3 separate regions of the Homo sapiens genome follow, and all the other regions are linked to region 3. The links come from fine-mapping of genetic effects on gene expression. A gene starts in region 3. Each other region holds a variant in brackets. All regions are shown on one strand. Distances are between the middles of the regions.

What was found. PIP is the estimated chance that this variant, and not a neighbour inherited with it, causes the effect. A credible set is the group of variants that fine-mapping cannot tell apart.
Region 1: its variant is the best candidate, but not a certain one, in a credible set for the expression of SPON1 in lung (TOPMed, PIP 0.62).
Region 2: its variant is the best candidate, but not a certain one, in a credible set for the expression of SPON1 in testis (GTEx, PIP 0.64).

What each region holds. Positions count from the first base shown.
Region 1 is chr11:14,249,694-14,257,504 of GRCh38, forward strand. It overlaps SPON1 (spondin 1), which reads left to right. Exons shown (of 16, transcript NM_006108.4): 8 at 4,835-5,036; 9 at 5,954-6,094; 10 at 6,924-6,999. Among named protein-coding and RNA genes, the nearest start is that of RRAS2, 110 kb to the right of the region's middle. The variant A/T (reference allele first, on the strand shown) is at 4,311.
Region 2 is chr11:14,014,059-14,021,869 of GRCh38, forward strand. The region is part of intron 2 of SPON1 (spondin 1); the gene reads left to right. Among named protein-coding and RNA genes, the nearest start is that of SPON1, 55 kb to the left of the region's middle. RefSeq lists an enhancer at 7,627-7,811. The variant A/G (reference allele first, on the strand shown) is at 3,016.
Region 3 is chr11:13,958,547-13,966,357 of GRCh38, forward strand. SPON1 (spondin 1) reads left to right here and starts at 4,177. Exons shown (of 16, transcript NM_006108.4): 1 at 4,177-4,596. The coding sequence starts at 4,359. It overlaps LOC124902637 (a long non-coding RNA gene), which reads left to right and starts at 4,611. Exons shown (of 2, transcript XR_007062602.1): 1 at 4,611-6,499. RefSeq lists an enhancer at 7,462-7,811.

The sequences.
Region 1 (7,811 bases), 290 kb after region 3:
AAAATCCTTTCTTACCTCTTTTCTTTTATGGTGTTTTGGAACATTTTGTTTGGAAAAGTTGAATGAGAAGAAAATCAACCTCTACCAAGCCCTGTTATGTGTCCCTCACAATGATAAGCAGTTTTCTCACAATAAAACCTTGGGGTAGGATGATGATGCTCCCATTTGGCAGATGTAGTAATTGCAAAGAAAGGTGAGGTGGAAGCCCTCATCACATAGCTATTAAATAAACAGCTGATTCGAATCCAGCTCTGACTGTCACCAATGCCCTGGGTTCTTTCCTCCACACCATGCTGCCTCTCCAAATGTAGAAAAAGGAAACATTTCTCTGGGTCTTCATATCTGATGTGAATTGTCTGTTCATAACTTTTCTTTATCTAGTGGGATCATTGTCTTTTTCTACATATTTGGATTAACTCTGTAGATAATATAGATATTAACACTTTGTCAGTCACACTCAATGGAGACATTTTTTGCCAGCATGTCATTTTTCTCTCCAATTCAGTACTGCTGTTTTCATTTTACAGAAGGTCTTCGTTGATAGATAATTCAATTCTTTTCTTTATAATTGCTTTTATTGTTTCAAAGTTGAAAAAATTAATATTTCTCTAGTAGATCTGAAAGCTTTATTTTTTTCTATGATCTGGTTATTTTCTATTTGACTCTGGGTCTGTTTTTTTTTTTTCTTGTGTGGTATATTAAATGTGAATCCAGTTTTTTTTTTATTACAGTTAACTTAGCCCAACCCCACTTGTCGCACAATCTTTCCTTTCCCCCTAATTTGAAAAGCCTATTTTGTATAGTCCTTATCTATAGTTTCTGGGATCTCCAGTCTGTATTGCTGATTTATATTTCTATCTTACCTGAATATCACGCTATTTTGTCTATCATGCTTTATCATATACTCTGGTATATGGTATGGCTAGATCAACTCTCTGCTAGAAAACGGATACAAATCTAAGTCCCAGGTAGAAAGATGAAACCAAATTAACAAAATATATCTTGGAAGACATGGCATATACAAAAGCATAAAAATTTTTATGACAGTTTGAACAAATTAAAGCACTCCAGTCCTATCTAGCATTTTCTAAGGAAAACTCATATAGATTCTTATTCATTTAATTATTTTTATTATAGAATAAATACTTTGAAGTGATGCTTAATTAAATTTGAAGGTCAAAGGAAATACAAGAGCTCCATGTTCATTTCTTAGATTAAGTCATTTACTTCAACAAACATTTGAAGAGAATCCATGGCATGCCAAGTTCTAAGCCAGACATTGGGATATAGCTATGAGCACGGCAGAAATGGTCCTCACTCTATTGGAACCTGATGGGAAAGGCAGATATTAACAAAAAATTCCAAAGCAAGAGTGAGTTCAGCATGCTATGGGGAGGTAGAATAGGAGTTCTAAGCAATTTGGGGAGAGGTCAGGAAATACCTCCTCCAGGAAATGTTACATAAATGGGGTCAAGGAGGGATTCTCCAGTCAAGGATAAGAGAAAGCTGCAGGGCATATCTGAAAATGCTATCAAATTGTTCTCAGGCCCTTATAGATTCAGATTTACTCTATCACCCAAGATAAGTCAGCCATGTGACCTCATAGTCAGGAATTGGCCGCCCCACGTTTCCCACACCTTGAAACACTTACCAGGGTCTAGAGGGTATCTCGCTTCAGCTACAGATTTGGATACAACAGATTGGGCCAAAATGCATTTACTGAGAATGATTTCCACAAGGCCTTGGTCTCAGATGGTTACACCCATTGGCTGGGCAGGTTCCAGGGTAATGTGTTAGGGTGGCAGTTGGTTTGGTTTCTACAGCTCTGGATTAGAACTGGTTTTGTCCCCTTAGATTGTCATTATGAATAGTCACCCATGGGGTACAGGATATGAATGACTAATCTGGCCCCAAATCACCTACTTAGGAAGACAGGAAGGCAATAGATGGAGCGGTCAGTCTCTATGACAATGGAAGAGGAAACCTGCCTCCCAGGGGACTGCTGGACCACCCCAGAGGACAGCTGCACCCAGGTGCCAGTGCTGTCTGCTCAGCAGTTACTAGAAGGCAGACCAGAACCCCGTCCTGTGAGTCCCTAGGCGAGGTAATGCCACACCTCCATAGACTGCAATCCTTGTGTGAACCAGGTCTTTAAAGAAGCTGCTAAAATCACTGACCTACATGCCAGAAAATGCACACGTGGGAAAAGGAAATTAAATCCCCTGATTTGTGCCTAAGTAGCTGATGATGTCATTGCAATACTTTAGCAGTTTATAAAGACTTCCTAATAAAGCATCTCATTTGATCCTGACAGCAACACTGCAGGTATGTATTGCTAGATGAAGATATTGAGACTTGAAGAGGGTGAGCAACTTGCCCAAGATCTAAAGCTAGAAGTGGAGGAGTTCAAGTCATCATACGCATATTTGTTCAGTCGGCCCACTGGACACCTAGGTCCTGGGGTACAGCTATGAAACACAGAGTTCCTTCAAGGAACTCCCGGTCTAAGCTGGGGAGAGGGAACAGTGAGGAAGTGATTACATTCATGGGGTCTGGCTATGGAGACCTGCGCAGAGTGGGAATCCAGCGCTATGTATCTGCCTCAGCCGAAGGCAAGACCTGCGCAGAGTGTGGGAATCCAGCGCTATGTATCTGCCTCAGCCGAAGGCAAGACCTGCGCAGAGTGTGGGAATCCAGCGCTATGTATCTGCCTCAGCCGAAGGCAAGACCTGCGCAGAGTGTGGGAATCCAGCGCTATGTACTTGCCTCAGCCGAAGGCAAGACCTGCGCAGAGTGTGGGAATCCAGCGCTATGTACTTGCCTCAGCCGAAGGCAAGACCTGCGCAGAGTGTGGGAATCCAGCGCTATGTACTTGCCTCAGCCGAAGGCAAGACCTGCGCAGAGTGTGGGAATCCAACGCTATGTACTTGCCTCAGCCGAAGGCAAGACCTGCGCAGAGTGTGGGAATCCAGCGCTATGTACTTGCCTCAGCTGAAGGCAAGACCTGCGCAGAGTGTGGGAATCCAGCGCTATGTATCTGCCTCAGCTGAAGGCAGGCAGAAAGGCTGCTGGAAGAGGTGACATGACCTGAGGCTTGAAAGATGAGTGGGCCCAGCATTCTCAAGCTTGAGGTGTATTACAATCTGGAGGGATTATTAAAACAAATTGCTGGGTCCTACCCCAAGTCTCTAATTCAGCAAATATAGGGTGGGGCTCAAGAATCTGTATTTCTAACAAGTTCCTAGAGGTTGCTGATGCTGCTGGTCCAAGGACCACACTTTTCCAATCACTGAAGAGCTTGCCCAATAGATGCAAGTACAAGTGGAACCTGCAGCTAACCTGCAGGTAGACTGGCCTGTCAGGGCCCAGGGAGCTTCTTAGGTAGCAGGTAGTGTGGGATAAGGGAGGGGGTGCATGGGAGGCAGCACCAGGACCTTGTCAATCGACGGATGCCAAAGCCAAGGCTCAGGCCAGGTTCTTCTCCACTCCTGTGGCAGAACCTAGACTGGCATCAGGCTAAAATGGAAAGTCCATTCAGGAAGGCTTTTCCTCCCACCTGTCCCCTTTCTGATCTCCATACGATCCTACAGTACTTCTCTCAGTAACACTAATGGTAATAAGAGCTCTAGGGCCAGGCAATGGGCTAAGTACTGTCTGCAAGCTAGCTCATTTGAAATTCACAGGAACCCTTTGGAGTAGACGTATGTGATCACCATTTTAAAGATTTGGACACTGAGACGCAGAAAGGTTTGATAATCTGCCCAAGGACACACAGCTGTAACAGGTGATACCAGAGCCCAAGGGGCCCAGTTCCCCAGGCCCCAGTCGGGTCTGCAGTCATTGCTTTCTGGTGCCAGGTGAGGGCAGCCAGAAGCAGCTGGTCCCAACAGAGGGCACAGGGACTTCCAGACAGCTGAGGCAGACCAGCTGCCAGCTGGACTGAACAGAACAGTTGGTCTCTGGCCAAGGATTCCCCATGATTAGCAGCCTTGGGGTGCAGAGTCAGGCCAAGCTGCCTTCAAGCCTCAGCCCCCTCCTAGCTGTGTCTATTAGTTCATTAACCACTTATTCACTTTCATGGCCTCTCTATGAGACAGGATAATAATTCTAACCCCACAGGATTGTCATGAGGGGAAAATGAAATAATATGGGACTGCCACCCGCTGTGTGCTTTGCGAATGTGACTCTTTCCTTTCCAGCCACTCTGAGTGGTTGCTGCCATGTATCTCACATGGTCCCAGCCACTCCTGAGAATCTGTGTGACACAAAGAGAGAGGTTGAAGAGCGGCCTCTGATAGCTTAGACTCAGG[A/T]TGTTATTCCCAGCAACTGGGGGTGTCGGCCAAAGGTCTCTGACTCTACAGCTGGTCCCTGCTTCCCAGCTGTGAGCTGATGGGTACAGTCTGGCGCTGGACAGTGCCTGCTATTGGCAGCCTTCTGAGGGCAATAGAAACAGGAAGCTGGGGGAGATGACCCCTCTGATGGGAGGTTGAGGTGCAAGGATCACTTGAGCCCAGAAGTTTGAGGCAACAGTGAGCCATGATCACACCACTGCACTCCAGCCTGGGTGACAGAGCAAGACTCTGTCTCTGAAAGAAAAACAAAAAGAGAAACTGGATAGGGTGGTAGTATATGGTTCTCTCCACATTTGTTCAATGGATGGGCTCAGGACAGAGAAGGGTATAAACCCACAGTGGCCAAAGGCAGAATTCAGTGGGAGACCACGAATGTGGATACTCTCTGTCCCTCTCATTCTTCATAATCCAGGCAGATTTCCCTCAGAGTGAGGACCAACCCCCAGAACTCTAATATAATGGTCTCTGTATTTCGTTTCCAGGAGAGCAGCACCTTCAGCTGAATTTTCCGTGGACAGAACGCGCCATTTAATGTCCTTCCTGACCATGATGGGCCCTAGTCCCGACTGGAACGTAGGCTTATCTGCAGAAGATCTGTGCACCAAGGAATGTGGCTGGGTCCAGAAGGTGGTGCAAGACCTGATTCCCTGGGACGCTGGCACCGACAGCGGGGTGACCTATGAGGTGTGTGTGTGTGCCTGGAGTGGTGAGTGGCTCCTTGCCTACCCGCTTCCTGAGTGTCCTGGACACAGAGGGGATCTGTCCCAGGCTCTGTCCTAGGTGAACTTTCAGTCTGGCTGGGGAGGCTGGCATGGTCGCATCATCACATATGGTGTAATTTGGGCTCTGGGAACTGTCTGTGCAGTGGCCAGGAGAGCACGGAGAGGGAACTGCTAAAGAGCAGTTCCCAGGTGAGCAGGGGACAGCATTCCAAAGCCATGACTGCAAGAGCGAAGGTTTCTGGACAGCTGGGCTAAGGAGTTTGCATTCTGTCCTGAATGTCATATTTCTCTGATATGATCTATTGCATTGAAATCTGGAGCCATCAGAAAACCAATGGGAGAACAATCTAGAACAGACATCTGCAAACTATGGTTTGGAAGACAAATCTGCCCTACAATGTGATTTGTCAATAAAGTTTTCAAAGCCAGTTACACTCCTCCAAGTACATATTATCTGCGGCTGTTTTCTCACTACCACAGCTGAGTTGAATATTAGCAACAGACACAATATGGTTCACAAAGCCTAAAATATTTAGCATCTGGCCCTTTACTAAAAAAGTTTTCCAATGCCGGGTCTATTAGAAAGAGTTTGGGATTCAGGCCAACCTGGCTCAGCCGTTTCCTAGCTGGGATGGCCTCTCTGAAACTTGGCTTCTTCATCTTAGCACAATCCTACCATGGACATGGAAGAATTTTAAAATATAGTTCTAGAAATTTCTCAGCACAGTATGTGGCATGAACACAATTCCATAAATATAAATAGTAGTTATGCTTGTTAAATTCCTATCAAGGACTTTGCTCTGATCCATATAACAAATGGCTTTTGTGGGTTTTCCCAATTTTATTTCTTACTCTCTACCTCTGTATGTTTTCTTGCAGTCACCCAACAAACCCACCATTCCCCAGGAGAAAATCCGGCCCCTGACCAGCCTGGACCATCCTCAGAGTCCTTTCTATGACCCAGAGGGTGGGTCCATCACTCAAGTAGCCAGAGTTGTCATCGAGAGAATCGCACGGAAGGTACTGGGTTAGAACCCACTCTGGCATCGACCTTTCCCGGTAGGAGTGCCAGGGAGATTGTACACCCTTCTGCTCTAGAATCATAGAGTCACTGGCAGAAAGCACCTCAGGATATGGAATTCCTGGGCCTCCCCAGGTTTCTAACATGCAAATTATTTCATAAGATGAAAATAAGCAGGCCAGGCACTGTAGCCCATGCCTGTAATCCCAGCCCTTTGGGAGTCCAAGGTGGGCAGATCACCCGAGGTCAGGAATTCAAGACCAGCCTGGCCAACATGGTGAAACCCCATCTCTACTAAAAATACAAAAATTGGCTGGGCATGGTGGCAGGGACCTGTAATTCCAGCTACTCGGGAGGCTAAGGCAGGAGAATTGCTTGAACCCTGGAGGTGGAGGTTACAGTGAGCCAAGATTGCGCCATTGCGCTCCAGTCTGGGTGACAAGAGCAAAACTCCATCTCAAAAAGAAAAAAGAAAAAAAAAGAAAATGAGCAAAATTAACTCAGCAGTGAGGCCCAGTGCTCAAATGAACAATTTGATCCAGGCAAATTGCTTTCATTGTGAGTTCTGCAATTGATTACTAATATCTGCCATGGGCCAGGAACTGGGGAGTGGTGGTACCCAAGTTATGTATTTATCATCCCTGGTTAGCCATTCCTGCTTTCTTGGCATTTCTTTCTCAGGCAGATTGTAAATGTTGGTCCAGAACTTTGCCATGGCATACGATTTGTATACAGAATGGCGATTAGATTTTAGTCCTCTTTCACCTTCCCCCTACACATTCCCTTCTTTCTCTCATGTGAGCCCTCCAAGTAAAATTCCTTTTTCAGGGTGAACAATGCAATATTGTACCTGACAATGTCGATGATATTGTAGCTGACCTGGCTCCAGAAGAGAAAGATGAAGGTACGTTGTTTTCTTTTGTTGCAGGTGGCAACATAAATTGACATAACCCTTTGAGAAAGCAATTTGCTAACCTGTTTTAAGAACCATAAACCATGTGCTTTGACTTGGTAATCATATCTCTGAGGATTTCTCCTCAAGAAATAATCAAAAACAAGGCCAAGGTTAGGCCCAAAGCATAAGGGAATTGGTGAAGATATGACATCAGAATATATACTCAACAACATCAGGCCTTTAAAACAATCATGTAAATCTCATTTTAATGGGCTTCGCAGGATTCAGACCACTCTCTGCTTCGATTCTCAGGCCAGCCTATGAGGCAGGTGTGGATACATTCACTTTCCTAGCAAGCAAAGAAAGGCCCAGATCCTACAATCAGGAGGGAGCGACAGAGTCATGGTTCAAGCTCAAGTTTTCTTATGGGATCTGGAGCCAGACAACCTGGACTCTCAGTAGACATGTGATCTTGGGCAAGAAGCTAACCTTTCTGTCTCAGTTTCCTCAACAGTCAAATGGGGATAATAAAAGAACTTGCTTCATACAGTTGTCAGAATTAAATGGGATAAAACATGTAAGGCTCTTAGAATGGTGCTGGTACATGATGAGTACTCAATGAATAGCAGCTGCTCTTATTCTTACCATGACAACTGTGTATGGGATCATTGGGAAGATGAAGCCATGGCATGTAAATAAGCCTTGAGCTTTTCAAAATTACCTACAATGAGCCTGCATGTGTCTGGAAACAATGCCAAGATGAGGGACTGAAAATGAGAAGACGTTCATGTGTTGAGAGGAAGGGATAATAAGAATCATTC
Region 2 (7,811 bases), 56 kb after region 3:
GGGAGAAGCTCTGTGTGAAGGACCCACATACTCCCGTCTCTGGCCCAGCCCAAACTGCCTTGGCTTACCTGAGGCTGCCAGTGACTTCTGGCTCCTAGATCTTCATCTTGCAGCTACGTGGACAAGGTGGGTGCAGCCTGGTGCCTTATGTCTGTGCTGTAGCTTCTTAACAGCAAGTGAGATGGTAGCAGGCATGGAAGGCCATCGGTGGGAAGGGAAAGGAGGGGTTGTCATAGACCAAGGAGGGTGACCACAGCATTCCACAGATTCAAAAATGCCCATTTTTAACATTGTAGCATTTTACAAGTCAGAATGCATCTTACAATTGATATGTACATGAAATGTAGGATTCCTTTTCCAGATAAACTGTTAGTGCATCATTGATACCTCTTATACGCAATGGCATCCTGGATTCAAGGAACTATGGCAGGTTTCATCTTATGTGTCAATTCTGATCAAGTGGTGGAGACTATCTGGAGTTTGGGAGGAGAAAGGTCTGGTGCTATGTCCATGGCAGTGGTGAACAACAATAAACTGAGTGGGGCGTCACTGTGCATGAGAGATGGCATAGAATCCTACTGTCGGGCATTTGCGCCTTCATCCAATATCTTTGGTATTAAATGGAGGAGCACCTGCCATATCTTCAACTGTAAACTAAAGGACACAAAACACAGGAAGCATTTCCAAGGGACCAGGTCAGAGGCCTGCCTCTTCTCATGCAGATTTGTGACTGTGGCCTTTTTAAATACTTTTTTAAAGTATTAATTTAATTATAAAAATAGTACATGCATGCTATAATACAAAGATACAGAGGTACATGAAATTTTAAATGTCTCATTGTATAGATGTTACTATTACTGGCCTTATAGATTTTTACCCTTCTTCTATTGTAAACAAATGTGTCTTTGTGTATGTCTGTGCACGTACACACACACACTTGTCTGTCTATGGAGAAAATCTTAACAGAATTGTGGGCAGGCCTCATTTTTAATGGGCACAACATAGTCTACTTAACCTCTCCCCATTGAGGTTTGGCTCAAAGCTTATTTCTTGTTTCTTATGAGTGTAAATGCTCAGAATAACCTGTATGACCAGTGTCATAGTCCATTCATGCTGCTATAACAAAATACCACAGATTGGGTTATTTATAAAGAATAGAAATGTATTTCTCACAGTCTGGAAGCTGAGAAGTACAAGATCTAGGTGCCAGCAAGTTTAGTGTCTGGTGAGGACTGTTTTCTGCTTCCAAATGGTGCCTTGTTGCATGCTCTGGAGGGGACAAGCACTGTGTCCTCAGGTGGTAGAAGGGATAATATAAGCAGTTTCATCTCTTAAGACCTTTATAAGGTCACTAATCCCATTTATGAGGGCTCTGCCCTCATGACTTAATCACCTCCTAAAGCCTCCACCTCTTAATAGTATCACATTGATTATTACTTTTCAACATATGAATTTTAGGGGACATTCAGACCATAGCCACAAGGAATGCTTTACTTACATTTTAAATTAGTTTATTAAGATGGTTTCCCAGAAACATAAACATGCTTAAGGTTTCTGATAATTTCTGAATTGATATGTCAAAGATGTGGTTGATTGACACTTGTTAACTATGGGTAAATTTAAACTCAGTAACAAAGCTTTTGTGTTTCCATTACCAAAGAACAAGAAACTATTGGAGGTAAGTCATTGTATATTTATGTTGGCTGTTTGGCGATGTCCTTGTTAGGAATGGAGTGAGTCATGCTGCCTGAATGCAGTGTGTCAGAGGCTCAGGGTCTCAGGGACAATATCCAGGCTCTAGGTCACCTTTGACTTTACCTGCCTTATCTGACCGGCTCATAGCAGGCTGGGGTAAGTTCATGTTGCCACGGATTCTAGGAGGGATCTCTGAAGTGTCAAGTACTGCCTTTTCTTCTCATGGTTCAGTGCAGATGGCCGCAGAGGGCAGGATAGTTGATGACTTATTCTCTGGAGTCATCCAATCTTGGGATTAATTCTTTTATATTCATTTGCTGGGAAGGGAAAGGAAGAAAAGGGGAAGAAGCTCTGATGGCAGTTCCCTCTTCCTAGATTCCCTGCTGGTGGTGCCTCAGGAACTTCCTTTCTTTTTGGGTATACCCTCCTTTCTTTCCTTCCTTTCTCAGTGTTTACTATTTGTGGGAGCATGTACTAAGTGCTACGCACTTTACACATGTGATCTCATTTAACTCAATCCATTTAACTGAACTGCCAAGAGGCTAAGTGGCTTACAAAACCAATTCTATGATCTTTACATTTTTACTTGTGCAAACGTGTGAGAAAGTTTAACTGGTGAAACATCTGTCAGGTGAAGACTGATGTGCTTTCTATGGGTCAGCAAGAAGGCAGAAGTATATCCATCTAAGTATACATTTATATCAAAATAATTTATTTGGACCCATGTAACTATAGCATTGATTATTGTTTTCTAAATTTGATTAGCAGTCAACTGAACATACTATTCGTTTATTGCAATTGGGTACTTTAAAACAAGTTCTCAGAGTAAGGGTTTTTTTTCTGTTATATTTTTATACTCACATTAAAAAAAGAAATATATACCCAATCTTGTTCAAAAAGAATTTAGGATAGCTCATATCTGGTTTAATCTAAAATTAATACTTTAAAAATGGAATTTTAAAATGATAATTTTAGTAGTGTTTTGGAGACTAAAATTGGGAAAGTCAAGAAGCTGGCTGTTGACTCACACTATTGGTTTCACATTGCAGAAGATAATGTGCCATTTTTTTCATTTCAATTCAGGCAACGCTTCCTGATCACCTACTAAGTGCTGGGCACTGCATGTGGCCAGTAAGACCTCCATGTGTTGCACAGTAGCTGACAGCAGATCAGCAGACTTTTGCTACCAGGATGGGCACAGGGCACTCTAACTTTGCAAAGCAGCCTTTAGGGCCTCTTTTCAGGTGCCCAGAGATTGCTACGGTGTAAGGGAAACTTTTGTATGTTCCAGGGCTGGTGTCAGGCCCATTTTCATTGGCA[A/G]TGACCTTCCTGGCATATGCTGCATTTTCCTATGTTGGTGAGAAATTTAATTTTACTCTCCAGAGGTATTAGGGAAAATATTACAAACCACTTTTCAAGTTGAGGTTGAACAAATGACCAGGTATAACTGGTTCAGGACCCCAAAATAATGTCATTGTTTCTTTAAGCATTGTCATTGAGTTGAAAGCCATGGAGGTCACAAATAAAAAGAGTTAGGCTCATATTCTAAAGATCCCCAGCTCTTTAATTTAAAAAAAAATCAGTGTCAAAATGTTTTGTTTTAATTACATCATTGTTTTCAGACTATGCTTTAAAGAATTTTAAAATTAGCTTAGTTTTTTAGTAATCTATGAATAAAGCTTCTCTTCTCGTGTGCCTGCCTTAGAGATGGACTGACTTTTTTGCAAAATGCAGCTTTTATTCTTAGAGAACTTAGTAGTGCTTAAACTGTGTTCATATTCATCCTGTCATTTGAGCTCTGTGACAGCCTTGTGATGGAGACAGAACTGGATTCTTACCCAAATTTTACAGATGAAAAGTTAGAGGTTGAACAACTTGCCTAAGGCCACCTTGCCTAAAGTAGCAGGGCCATTTGAGCCCTAGTTCAGGCATATTTCATTGGGCACACTGTCTTTCCAAATATTTGCAAAATTGGACGCTTGAATAGAAGACCTTCACCAAAACTCTGCTTACTATTTGGCTATTTCAAAAGTTAATTGTTGGATTTGCTGGGACTACCTAAGTGTCTTGAAAAATATGTGCATTCTGATAATGGATGCAATACATCAACTAAGTATTTTTAGGCCCCTTGTGTTTTTACACTTGTTACATCTTTGTAATGTATTGATCAAACTAATGAGTCGGACTATTTGGAATGAGCAGCTCAGTATTATTTAATGCTGCATTTCTTGTATTTTATTGATCACTTGCCTGATTAATTAACTTATACTATACTTGGTTTTAAGAAGACTTTGCTGGAGCTACTGAACAATTCTTTAGCTCACTTTTCTTATGAAATAACCATGGAACAAGGTACTATTTAGAGTCTTTGGGTCTTGTTGCGAATTTGTGGGTAGAAAATGTAAGATATATTTCAATACATGGATATAATCCATTTACAAGTAGCTAGACGGCCTTTGTTCAAATTTGACCACCTTTCAGACAATGAGCTTCACCTCTCAACTCTGCAGGAAGCCCTTAGTAGGTCCCAAATGGAAATAGGATCTACTCTGTCATAACTATCAAGCCTGAGATCTTAAGGCATCCAGGTAGTCACTTAGGAATGAAGAGGCAAGGATAGATTCAAACAACATTTCAGAGGTAGAAATTGGCTTGTTCAGTTTAGAAATGACATGGAAATTTCTAGTTTAATGATGCCAGTAACTGAGAGACCAACGGAGGGGCAGGGGCTGAAGGAAGGGGCTGGATTGAGTTTGAAATATTGTATCCTTCTCCTGAGGAGGTTATAACTTGGTTTGGGAATGTGGAGTTGACATGGATGAGAAAAGATAAGTAAACAAATGACTAAACTGCAGTATGATAAGGCCAGAGACAGAGATCTGCAGAGCATGCTGGGAGAACAATTTGTGGAGGTTGAGAAGTCAGAAAAAGCCTCCTAGTGGGCCTGACACATGGGCTACATTGTAGAAGAATTAATTAGGGAGAGTGTAGCACAGGGCATTCAATGCAGTAAAGGCAGTCTATACAAAGGCTCCAACGGTACAACAAGAGCCAGTAGACCAGGCAAGTTCAGTGGGCTGGAGGTTTTAGGATGGTTGAAAGATTTGAAAAGAAGCAGCAGCTTAGTCATGAAGAGCCTGGTAATAGCAGCCAGCACTTGTAAGCATTTACTGCAAGCCAGGCATCGCAGAATAGTTCAGAATATGTTTAGAAGGTAGAATTGTCAGTATGTGGTGACCAGTTGGACATGGGGTAGAAAAGAGAAGTACAAGTCCAAAGAGAGTCCCAAGTTTCTGCCTTGACCAAGACAGAGTTTGAATGAGGAGCCTATTTATGAGGGAGAAGGCTGATGAGCTCCATTTGGGACCTGTACAATTCAAGGTTCCTTTAGTCATCCATAGTATTTGGATGTATGGAGTCTGAGACCAGACTGCCCCGGTTTGAATCCTAGCTCAGCCACTTAGGAGACTTATGACCATGGGTAAGTTACTTAATCCCTCTGTGCCTCAGTTCAGTTTTCTCACTAATAAGATGGGAATAATGGCACTTAACCTTATAGAGTAGTTGTGATATTTAAATTTTACATAAAATTATGTATATTAATTATATATTATACGTAATTTTATAATGTGTATAATTATATAAATATACAATGTATATAAAATTGTATATGATTATATATATAATTTAGGTTCTAGATCATAACAGGCACTTGATAACTTATTGTTATTAATTATTATCATTATATAGTTCTGAGACTCAAGGACCTGGGTTGACACCATCAAGGTAGAGTATTATATATGATCATTATGTATGATCATTATGTATCTCTTAGGAGGTATTTGGCTATAAGAAACAGAAAATCCAATCATGGCTTTTATCATGGGTTCTTTTATTGTTTAGCAAGGAGTTTGGAGATAAATGGCTTCCACATTCTTTTAGCAGCTCAGTGACATCAGGTCCCTGGACTAGTAGCTCTGTGATTCACTCAGCCTTTCTCTTCTATTCCATAAAATGGCTGTGCTAGCTCCTCCGGTTCATAAATTGGCCACACTAGCTCAAAGCATGTCACCCTCACCAACAGTGTTCTAAATAGGAGAGAAGGAGGATAGTGGGGGAAAACACTCTCCTCATAGGCCACTACCCCTTTTGTCAGAGAGGAAAATCCCAGAAGCCTCCTGGCTGATGTTTCTGTACCTCTCATTAGCCAAAAGCAGGTCACATGGTCACCTGAAACTCAAGGAAAGGAACAGGATAGCCATAATTGGTTTAGACCAGTCATGATTCAATCTCTGGGGTTGGACACTGTAAATCCTAAACAAATAGGGTCTTTTAGCAAAAGAGAAGGAGGGAATGGCTGTTGGGCCAGTAATTAAGAATGTGCACCACTCTAGGGAGGGAGGACATTTAGAGAAGAGGACAAGAGGAGAACCCAGGACTCCATGACATTCATAGGTCTTATAGGGAACAGGGGCCAGGGAAGAGATTTCAAATGCCAAGGAAATAGGAGAAGAAATCCAGAGAAGCACCCCAAAGGGAAGAGCTGGGGGAGAGGCAAGTCTACAGGGGTACATCTGGCAGAGCTTTGAGCAGAATGAGGCTGTAAAAAGCTGTCAGAGTTGGCAGTGAGGAGGTCAGAGTGACCATTGCCAGTGCAGATTCAGTGATGCCAAGGGTTAAGAAGAGAATGGTGATCTCTATCATATGCAGTTGGTAGGCGTGCAAATTAATCCAAAATTTGTATTAGTTTGGCACTGTGTGCCAAAATTTAAAATGCTCATACCCTTTAACTCTGAAATTTCACTTCTAGGAATTAATTCAACTGGCCAATTTAGACAAGTGGAGGCTGATGTAAGTACGAGGATGTTGATTGCAGCCTTGTTTGTTATAGCAAAACAAAAAAAGAGGGGTGATTGATCTGATCTGAAAGCCCATCATATAGGATTAATTATAATAAATGGTAGTACATCTTGGCAGTGGAATACCAGGAACAGTAGAAAAGAACTGAAGTTCTGGAGTCCCACAGCCAGGGTTTAAATTCTGGTTCTGCCATTTACCAGCTGTGTGACCTCAGCTCTCTGTGAACATTTCTGGGACTCAGTTTCTTTAGCTGTAAAATGGGATAATTATAATACTAACTCATAGAGCTATAGTGAGGAATAAGGATGCAGATATAAGTGAAATACACTGAATATTTCTGGCACAGATTATTATGCAGTAATTTAAAAAGATTTGGCAGATTTACATGTATGTTTAAAAGATTGTTTATAAGATGTTAAGAGAAAGAAATGAGGTTACAGAATATCACGATATAATGATCCAACAGGTGGTTTTATCTGGGAGGTAAAATCCTGGGCACAATTCACTTTCTACTTTATACCTATTTGTATTTTTTACCTTTAAAACAAGGCATTTAATGTCTTATTCACCTGGCCAATTATAAGCCACAGGAGGGAAGCTACCATTTCTGTTTTGTTCACCACAGTATATCATAATATCTGGCATATTACAAGCAGATGATAAATATGTGTTGAATGAGTGTATGAAAAAATAGTAAGTTGTGTTTAGAAGGAAATTCCATAGGCCAAGAGTTCAAAGATGCAGTAGTTCTGCACCAACAAGTCCCCGGGTAGACCTCAGGGACAAGGCTGCAGAAATGAAGCAGAAGTCAGGGCTGAGGGTTGTATATTGGTCTTCAGTATGAATGCCTCAGCTTCTGAAACAGCTCAGGTTGCAAAACCTGAGGAAGAAGAGGGAAAACAAGCCCCAAAGCACCAGGATCCAGTCCCTGGTTTTGTTCAGCACTTCCCAAACAGGCTGAATCTGAGAGCCAAATCACATTTTAGAATTGCAGGGCATTTTGGTGCCATTGAGTCATTTCAACTTCAGAAAACCCAAGGCCCTGGAAGGAGGAGTTCTCCAAGTTCCTACAAGACCTGAGACGACCCTGCCCTGTGTTTCCCAATTCCTGCTCTAGTGCTGGCTCCTTCTTCCAAGGACTGAACATTGTAGATTTCTGATACACACGAAGTTGTTTTCAGAGGATGTCCATTCATTTGACTCCTAAGAAACCCAGTTCTCTTAAGCACAATTCAATGGCTTGCGTCTCTAAAGTT
Region 3 (7,811 bases):
GTTTCGGAATCTGCCTTTGAAGCAAACATCTGATGCTCATGTTTCAATGACCATACTCAGAAAAACACTAATCTAGAAAATCCTTTTCCCCCTTCTCTCTTAAAGCGGGGAGAAAAAAGAGGGAGATCTTACCTCCTATGAATCAAAGGACTTTTCTCGCCTTGGAGAACTGGAGCCCCCAGCTCTTCTCTTCTGCGACCTACCCACACACACTGATAAAGTTAATTATCTGCCCTGGCTAAATGACTTTCCTTAGCAACACCCTAGCAACTGACATCAGCTCTGCCTTAGGCTACAAAAACTGGAAGGAGATTTCTTGAAGTCCAGTATATTTTACAAAAGAACAAAACATCTGAACAGGAAATTAAGGGGAAAGTAAACTGGATTCATTGCTAGGAGATGAGAAATAGACACATGAAATAGTTCATGACAATCCACTGGACCACAGTAGTCAAAATGGGAAACTTTTTCTCCTCCTCAGTTCTACTGAAGTCCACAGGAGGGGAGACTGCAGGATCTCATTCTATGGAGGAAAATTTAATCAGGCAGGAGGAGGGAGGGCATTCCAGGCCATGAGAAAGCTGTAAGCAAAGGTGCTGAGGCAATACTGAAGTGGAGGACACGGGGAGCCCAGCTGGGTGGTGCTGGGAGCTCAGATTGGGATCTATGACCAGGCATGACCAGATGGACACAGTGAGACCAGATTGTGGATGGCCTTAGAGGCCAAGTCTTAAAATTTGGGCAGAGTCAGAAGGCACTGAGGGTAGGCTTGTTAAAAAGTTTTTATTCAGAGAAAAAATATTTATGGAACCCCTACCAGGGGCCGGGCACTACGATGTGCACGGAAAATACAGTGGTAAGCCCCATAGACATCCCCTACCCTTCTGGAGCTTAGAATTTAGAATGGAGACAAATACTGAACAAATGTAAAATTTTAAACATCAAACTTATAAATCAATGGGTCATTATAAATCTTAATATTAAAAGAAGCCAGGTGTGGTGGCTCATGCCTGTAGTCCCAACACTTTGGGAGGCTGAGGCAGGAAGATTGCTTGAGCCCAAGAGTTTGAGACCAACCTGAGCAACATAGGAAGACCCTGCCTCAAGAAGAAAGAAGAAAGAGGAAAGGAGAAAGGAGAAAGAAGAAGGAGGAGGAGGAGAGGGAGGAGGAAGAAGGAAGAAGAAGGAGGAGGAGGAGGAGGAGATTAAAAGAAAAGGTACTCATGAGCTTCAGCAGAGTTTTGGGGGCTGGATCTATTCTAGGAAATCAGAAAGGCCTTCTTTGGGGAGGCAGTTTTGCACTGAGATCTGAAGAGTACATAGGAGTTGGCCAATGGAGAGTGGTGGCTAGGAGAGACCAAAGAGCATGATAGGATTCCAGGCAGAGAGAACAGCACAGGCAAAGCCCATGAGAGAAGAGCTGCATGGCTGGAGAAGCAGATCAAGCAGAGCCTTGGAGGCCTGGCTGAAGATTCTGTCTTTATTCTGAGAGCCCTGAAAAACCACCAAGAAAAAATGTTAACCTCAGGATTGACATTCAAATCTGCATTTTTAAAAAGATCACTTGGGCTTCAGTGCAGAAGACAGATGGAAGGAGAGCACAAGTAGACAAGGGCAACCCAGTTAGGAAGATGAGAGAGGATGTCAACACAGACAGGGGTAGTGGTGGAGAAGAGCGTGAAACTTGATGTGGTGATGGATCGGATGAGTGGAGAAGACAGCAGAGGTCTGAGTGACAGCCAAGCTGGTTTAGGAAAACCTAGCTCATGTAGTGGGATTGGAGCTTGGTGAGCTGGTTAGAGCCTGCCGTCATAGCCCAGATGATAGGGCGAACACTGTGTACTGGAAAGTACCTCATTTGGTGTTGGGGATGCCTGTTTTAAATCCTGGCTCTTTCCCTTAATAGCCATGGAACATTACCTCAGCAGGTAATTTCATAGGCTCCTAATCTGAACAATGGGAGTGCGGAGGTGAATTGGGACTGCCTACTTCCCATAGTTTTCCTGTCAATATCCAATAAAAAGTTAAATATTGCATTCCTGCCTACTTCATGCCCACCCATCTCCAACTTAGATTTGAACCTTTTGTAGATGAATAGAGGTTCAAGAGCACAGATTTGAGCTTTCAGACATAAAATAAGCTTTGTGAAGACAGGGGTCACAATTTATTCATTTCTGTAGTTTCCTGCCCTCTGAGATAAGATCAGGTACACTTTCAAGAACCACTTATTTTAGTTTGTAGCATACATCACAATTATAATTTTAAAAGATTCATATAATTATGTATTTAATATTTGCCTTTGCCACAGGCCTGTAAAATCCTCAAAGGCAAGTAACATATCTGTGTTTTGTATCCAAGCACTGAGCACGTGGAGGGTCTTTGTCATGAATGAATGGATGGATAGAAGGATGCATGGATGGATGGATGGATGAATTTTTGTTCCGTCTTCTACCTACCGGTCAGCACAGAGTCTAGCTCCAAATCTACACTTAATGAAAGTTTGCTGGATGAATGGGACCGTGCAACTTGGAGTGCAGCATGAGCTCTGAGCCAGTCGAGTGAAGATGCAGACAATTCCCTCAGCACTCAGACATGGATCTGAGCCTCACCTCAAAAAGGAGGGCCGATCAGCTGGATCAGGTGCTGCTAGGGTCAAGAAGGGCTAGGGATGAGAGAAGAGCATAATTGGCTTCAGCAAGGGGTTACTTTCAGGTGACCTCTGAGAGAAGGCGTCCAGTTAATAGTGGCAGTGGGAATTCCAGCACAAGCACTAAGGAGTAAGTGGGCAGGCAGGGAGGAATGGAGATCTCCCATGCACCTAGCGCCCTGGGCCTGTTTGTAGCATTATGAAAGAGAAAACCCTGACCTGGAAAGCAAAGGAGATTGCTTGCTAATTGTAGGCACTTGAGGTGTGTCGAAGGCCCTGGGCAAAGAGAAGACGAGGAAACCAAAGCTTCTGAGGGCACCTGGGGAGGGATGTTTGTGTGCACTGAGAGGCAGGGGGCTTATGGTATCCCCAAGCGGGTGAGGGAGCAGGCGCCACTAGAGACCAACTAGAGTGTTTTATATGGGTCATATCATTTACTTCTAGCATATCACCCCACTACCTCTAAGAAGGATGTACTGGCACCCACCCCCACTTCCTTGTTCTCCAGAGCAGGAAACAAGCTTGGAGAGTGCGATAACTAGCCCAAGCTTCACAATGGGTGAGTGGCAGGACTGAGGTTTGATTCGGGTCTCTTCCCAGAGAGACACTGGGAGAGATTCTTGCCCCAGGTCTTTTCCCTTCAGGCCCTCAGGCTCAGCACCTCTCTGAACATCTGTCCCTGGGGAGTGAGAATCTGAACTAAAATGTAAGCCAAGAAAACACAGGCTCTTCATTGAATCTTTGGAAACTCCTTTCCTGGGCTGTAGGAGGACCTTCCTGAGCCTTAGGCACTTTTGCCTTTGCTGGCTCTTTCCTCCAAGTCAAGCATATTTTATGACTGTGGAGGTATAAATACAAATATATTAACATTATATAGTAAAACATTTTGTTTGACATAAATTTTTTCTTCTGATTTTTACAGAAAACATTTTCATAGATCTCCAAAAGTATCGTGGGCCCTAAGCGCTGTAGCTAAGTCGTTTCTCCTTTCTCAGCCTCCAGTCTGACATGTTCCACTATGGCCTTGGGAAGAGCAATGGGCCCGGAGTCGCCGCATCTAACCCTGCTGTAACTGGTCGCAAGTCACAGTTTGCTCATCTATAAAGTGAGCGAAAGTAATGTAATCTTTATTGGGAGTAGGGAACATGAAGGCGAGTCGATACAGTAAGTAAGCCGCCAAGCATATTGCTAGGCACAGAGCAGGTGTGCAACAAAAGTTATTTCTCAGGCTTTCCCTCCTCTGAGCGCCGTCCTCCAGAGGGTCCGGAGTGTAGCTGGGGGTTGGAGCAGCAGCCTCCTAGGCGATGGGACAGAGCCCACAGGGTCCGGTATGCCACGGTTTCTTCGTCAGACCCTGGGAATCCAACGTCGCAAAATAAACACGGCCGCGCCGCTAATCGCCAGTTCGGAGGAAACAAAACAGCGCTGCGCTGGGGGATCTGGGCAAAATCAGCCCTCCCTCCTCCCGCTCCTTCGCCGCGGCCCTCCCCTCCTCGCGCTGCTCTCGTTCGCTTGGCTCAGCTCAGCTCAGCTCAGCGCAGCTCCGCGGCCGCCAAGCCGAGGCGGGCACGGTCTCCGAGTCGCGGACGCCAGCTCCGAGCTCCCTCTCTCCGCCGCGCCTCCGCCAGGTCGCGCCTTCGTCGGGACCACTTCGGGCAGGAGTCGCGTGGCGAAGGCCTGCGGCCGCGGCACAAAGTTGGGGGCCGCGAAGATGAGGCTGTCCCCGGCGCCCCTGAAGCTGAGCCGGACTCCGGCACTGCTGGCCCTGGCGCTGCCCCTGGCCGCGGCGCTGGCCTTCTCCGACGAGACCCTGGACAAAGTGCCCAAGTCAGAGGGCTACTGCAGCCGTATCCTGCGCGCCCAGGGCACGCGGCGCGAGGGCTACACCGAGTTCAGCCTCCGCGTGGAGGGCGACCCCGACTTCTACAAGCCGGGAACCAGCTACCGCGGTAAGTGGCCGCCCGGCGTGGCATTAGGAGAGCGGGACCCGGTCCCCGGAGGGCGCCGACCTCGCGGTGCCGGAGGAGGGCGCGCGGTCTCCGGGCGCGTGGCGCGGGTGCAGCCCGGCAAGGGCCCTTCTGTCCTGGCTGCCCTCGGCCCTTGCAGTCGCGAGCTCGGCGCGGATCATAATCCAGCGTCCCGGGCCGTCGCGGGGGCCGCAGCCAGGAGAGGCACCCCGCGTTTCCGACGCGCGGTTCCCAGGCGGAGGATGTAACTGAGCCACACGTCACGCCGGCCTGACTGCAAGGGAGGCTCGCTTCTCCCCCGGCCGTCTGCAGGAGGGAAGTAAAACTGCCTTTCTCCAAATCGGTCTGGAGGGGACCCAGGCTTCTCTTGGTCGGGTCCCGGGCAAGGCAGCCACTCCAGCTTTCCCCGCTCAGTCCCTGAAGGAGAGGGTACCCGATTCTCAAAGACTGGCCCTGGGCGGGACAGCCACTCCGGCTTCCCTGGATAGGTCCCTTCAGGAGAAGGGACTTTGGCTTCTCCCTAACCGGTCCCGGGGTGCGGGAAGGAGGGGCAGGGACAGCCTAAAGCTCCTCGAAAGGGTCCTTGGAAAGAACCCCAAATTATTCTCTCGTGGTCCCAGACGAGATAGAGTATCTTGGGTTTCCAGAACAGGTTCCCAGTGGGGACAGGGTCCTCAAAGAGCTTGGGGTAAGCTCCGAGCTGCAAGGGGAATTGGATGAAGATGGAAAGAGAAGCCCCGATGCCCGAGGCCTGCTCCCTGGAGGCCGGGGAACCTTGGCTCCGGCAGCTCGGAGTCTCCACGTCCCAGGGATGTCGCGCCTACGCCGCTCGGCTGAGAGTGGGGTTTCGGGAGCTCAGGGAGGAGGTGTCCAAGCAGGTGAGAGCCTCCTAGGCGGGACAGGCAGTTCGACCAGCACCGATCTGAAGACGCCTGACTCTGTCCCCACGCCCGCCACCTCGCTCCTCAGCAGGGTCATCTCCCCAGACATCGTTTCCCCGTGCAGCAGCAGCCGCTCTCCGGGTGGGGGACAGGTAACCAGGAAGGGAAGCGAGCCTGTCTGGCCTCACCTTAGCTCCCGCCAGGGAGCGTGTCCTCTCACCCTCGCCCCTTCATAAGTCAGCTCTGGTGCTAAGCAGGGATGAGCGGGTCACTGGGGCACCTGGTGGGGCAAATGGGCTCCCAGCTGCTGTACTTTCCTCCTCGCCTTCCCAGTTCCCCAGAGAGCCTTGGACGGAAGCGGTGGGAGCAACACAGGAGAAAGTCTGGGGCAGCGTCAGCGGGCGCCAGGGTCACGCCGGAGACCAAAGCCAGGGGCCACCCTTCTTGGAGCGCTTTTCCCCCTTTCCCGGGTTTGTGTCCCCGACTTTCTCCACCCGGAGCTACCCAAAGCCGGCTCCTTGGTGCCCTTGGCACCTTGGCGTGCTGAGCACTTTGCGAGGAACAGTCTGACCCCGGCGCGCAGCTCCGCGGGATCCTGGGTACTCCACGAAGAAAGATTCTGGGCGGAGAACACCCCGCCCAGCCCGGGAGGGAGCGCGCGGCTTGGCACCGCGGCTAGAGCGAGCCGCGCCGACGGGCGGCGACTGCCACTCGGTGCAGCCGGGAGGCGGCCGATCCTCCCTGTGGACCGCAGGGAAGCGGGTATGACTTCAGTGGCCTATTCGGCCCTCCCCAAAACTGAGGACCTGAGTTCACAGGGGAAACTGTCCCCGCTCCACGTAGCAGAGAAAGAAGTGGCTCTGGAGTCCAACAGACTTGGGTTTACTCGCTGTGTGACCTTGTGCAAGTCATTTAATTTCTCTGCACCTATTTCCTAGCTGGAAAAAAAAAAAAGCTGTTTATCCACCCTCTCTTGGTGGTAGGGAGTAAATGAGTTTACAAAGGTGAGTGTGCCTGAGCTAAAAGAGATTCCTAATAAGCCTAACAGTTGAATGTGAGGCCTTTATTGGTTTACTAATGGAGGTAGGTTCTTGATCAGATTTTTGTTTTTGAAGAGTGTTGTGCGTTTGAAAGCAGGTTTCCTCAGCTCTCCTCCAGTCCCATTCATCTACCAGTGGTTATTTGGGTCCTCATGAATTAATTGAATGAATGAATGAGGTATTTTTTCATATCAGGAGCCTTGCCTAAGACTGTTGCTAATGCAAGCCCAGGAAGATTTTTTCAGTGACTTAGACTAGTCTGAGGTTCAGGCCAAGTGTACCCAGCGTCTCTTTTCACACTAATCCTCCGTGTTTTAGTTGAGCATTGGCAGCTGGTGGCCCTAGCACTGGGAAGGAGATACAGCTGGTATTCACGGGGCCAAAGAGGTTTCAGAACTACCTAAACGTCCAGGGCCAGCAGGTGGGGAACTGGGACTGGATAGGGAGTGTCCTGGACTTTCACCCTACAGGCTACTCCTGCCTAAACAGCCATCTGGACTTTGACACCCCAACTCAGGCTATAGATTGGGCAATCATCTTTTCTCCCTTCTTATGGCTAAAAGACCTTGGAAGAGATCTTGCAGGAACCATGCTGAGGTTTTCCAAGTAAATATCCTGCAATTAGCAAACCTGATTCTGCCACTCAAAGTCCGAAAGAAAAGGTACTGGCCTAGTTTGTGACATTTTCTGTTGGCTCCTTCTTTCTTAGAATAATTATGTTAAAAGTAACTCAAACACATTCTGCTCATTGTCCTGACTTAAGGCTGTGAAGCTGGCATTCCCCTGGTGTTCTATTTGCTTTTTAATTTTTTCATGAATTAGGATTCCTCACAATCCTTGGAATCAATGACTTGTTTTCCTGCCTCAAATCTTTGTCCACAGTATTCCAGTTCATCCCCAAGCAGCTTCTGTTCTTTGTGCCTGCTGTCTAAGTACAGTCTTTAGGTACTCTAGACCGGAATAAAATGGTCACTATTAAAAAAGACTGAAACATGGAGTTTCTTCCCCAAAACCTGAATCCAGTTGAGATCATTATTTTGTCTTTTCCAAGTTGTTAGTATTATATTGATTTCCTTTTCTTTCCCACCACTTCTCTCTACTCTCCCTCCCTCTTCCCACAGTCCCCCCTCCCTCCAACGGCAATAATTGTGCTTTAGAAAGCTCTGAAAGGCCTGCTCTGTTTCTGGCCAGGGCCTCCTTTGAAAAGGAGATTACAGTGATTAAAAATAACAAGTTGAGGATCCTCAAGGGGCTTCCCTTATACAGGAGGACAATT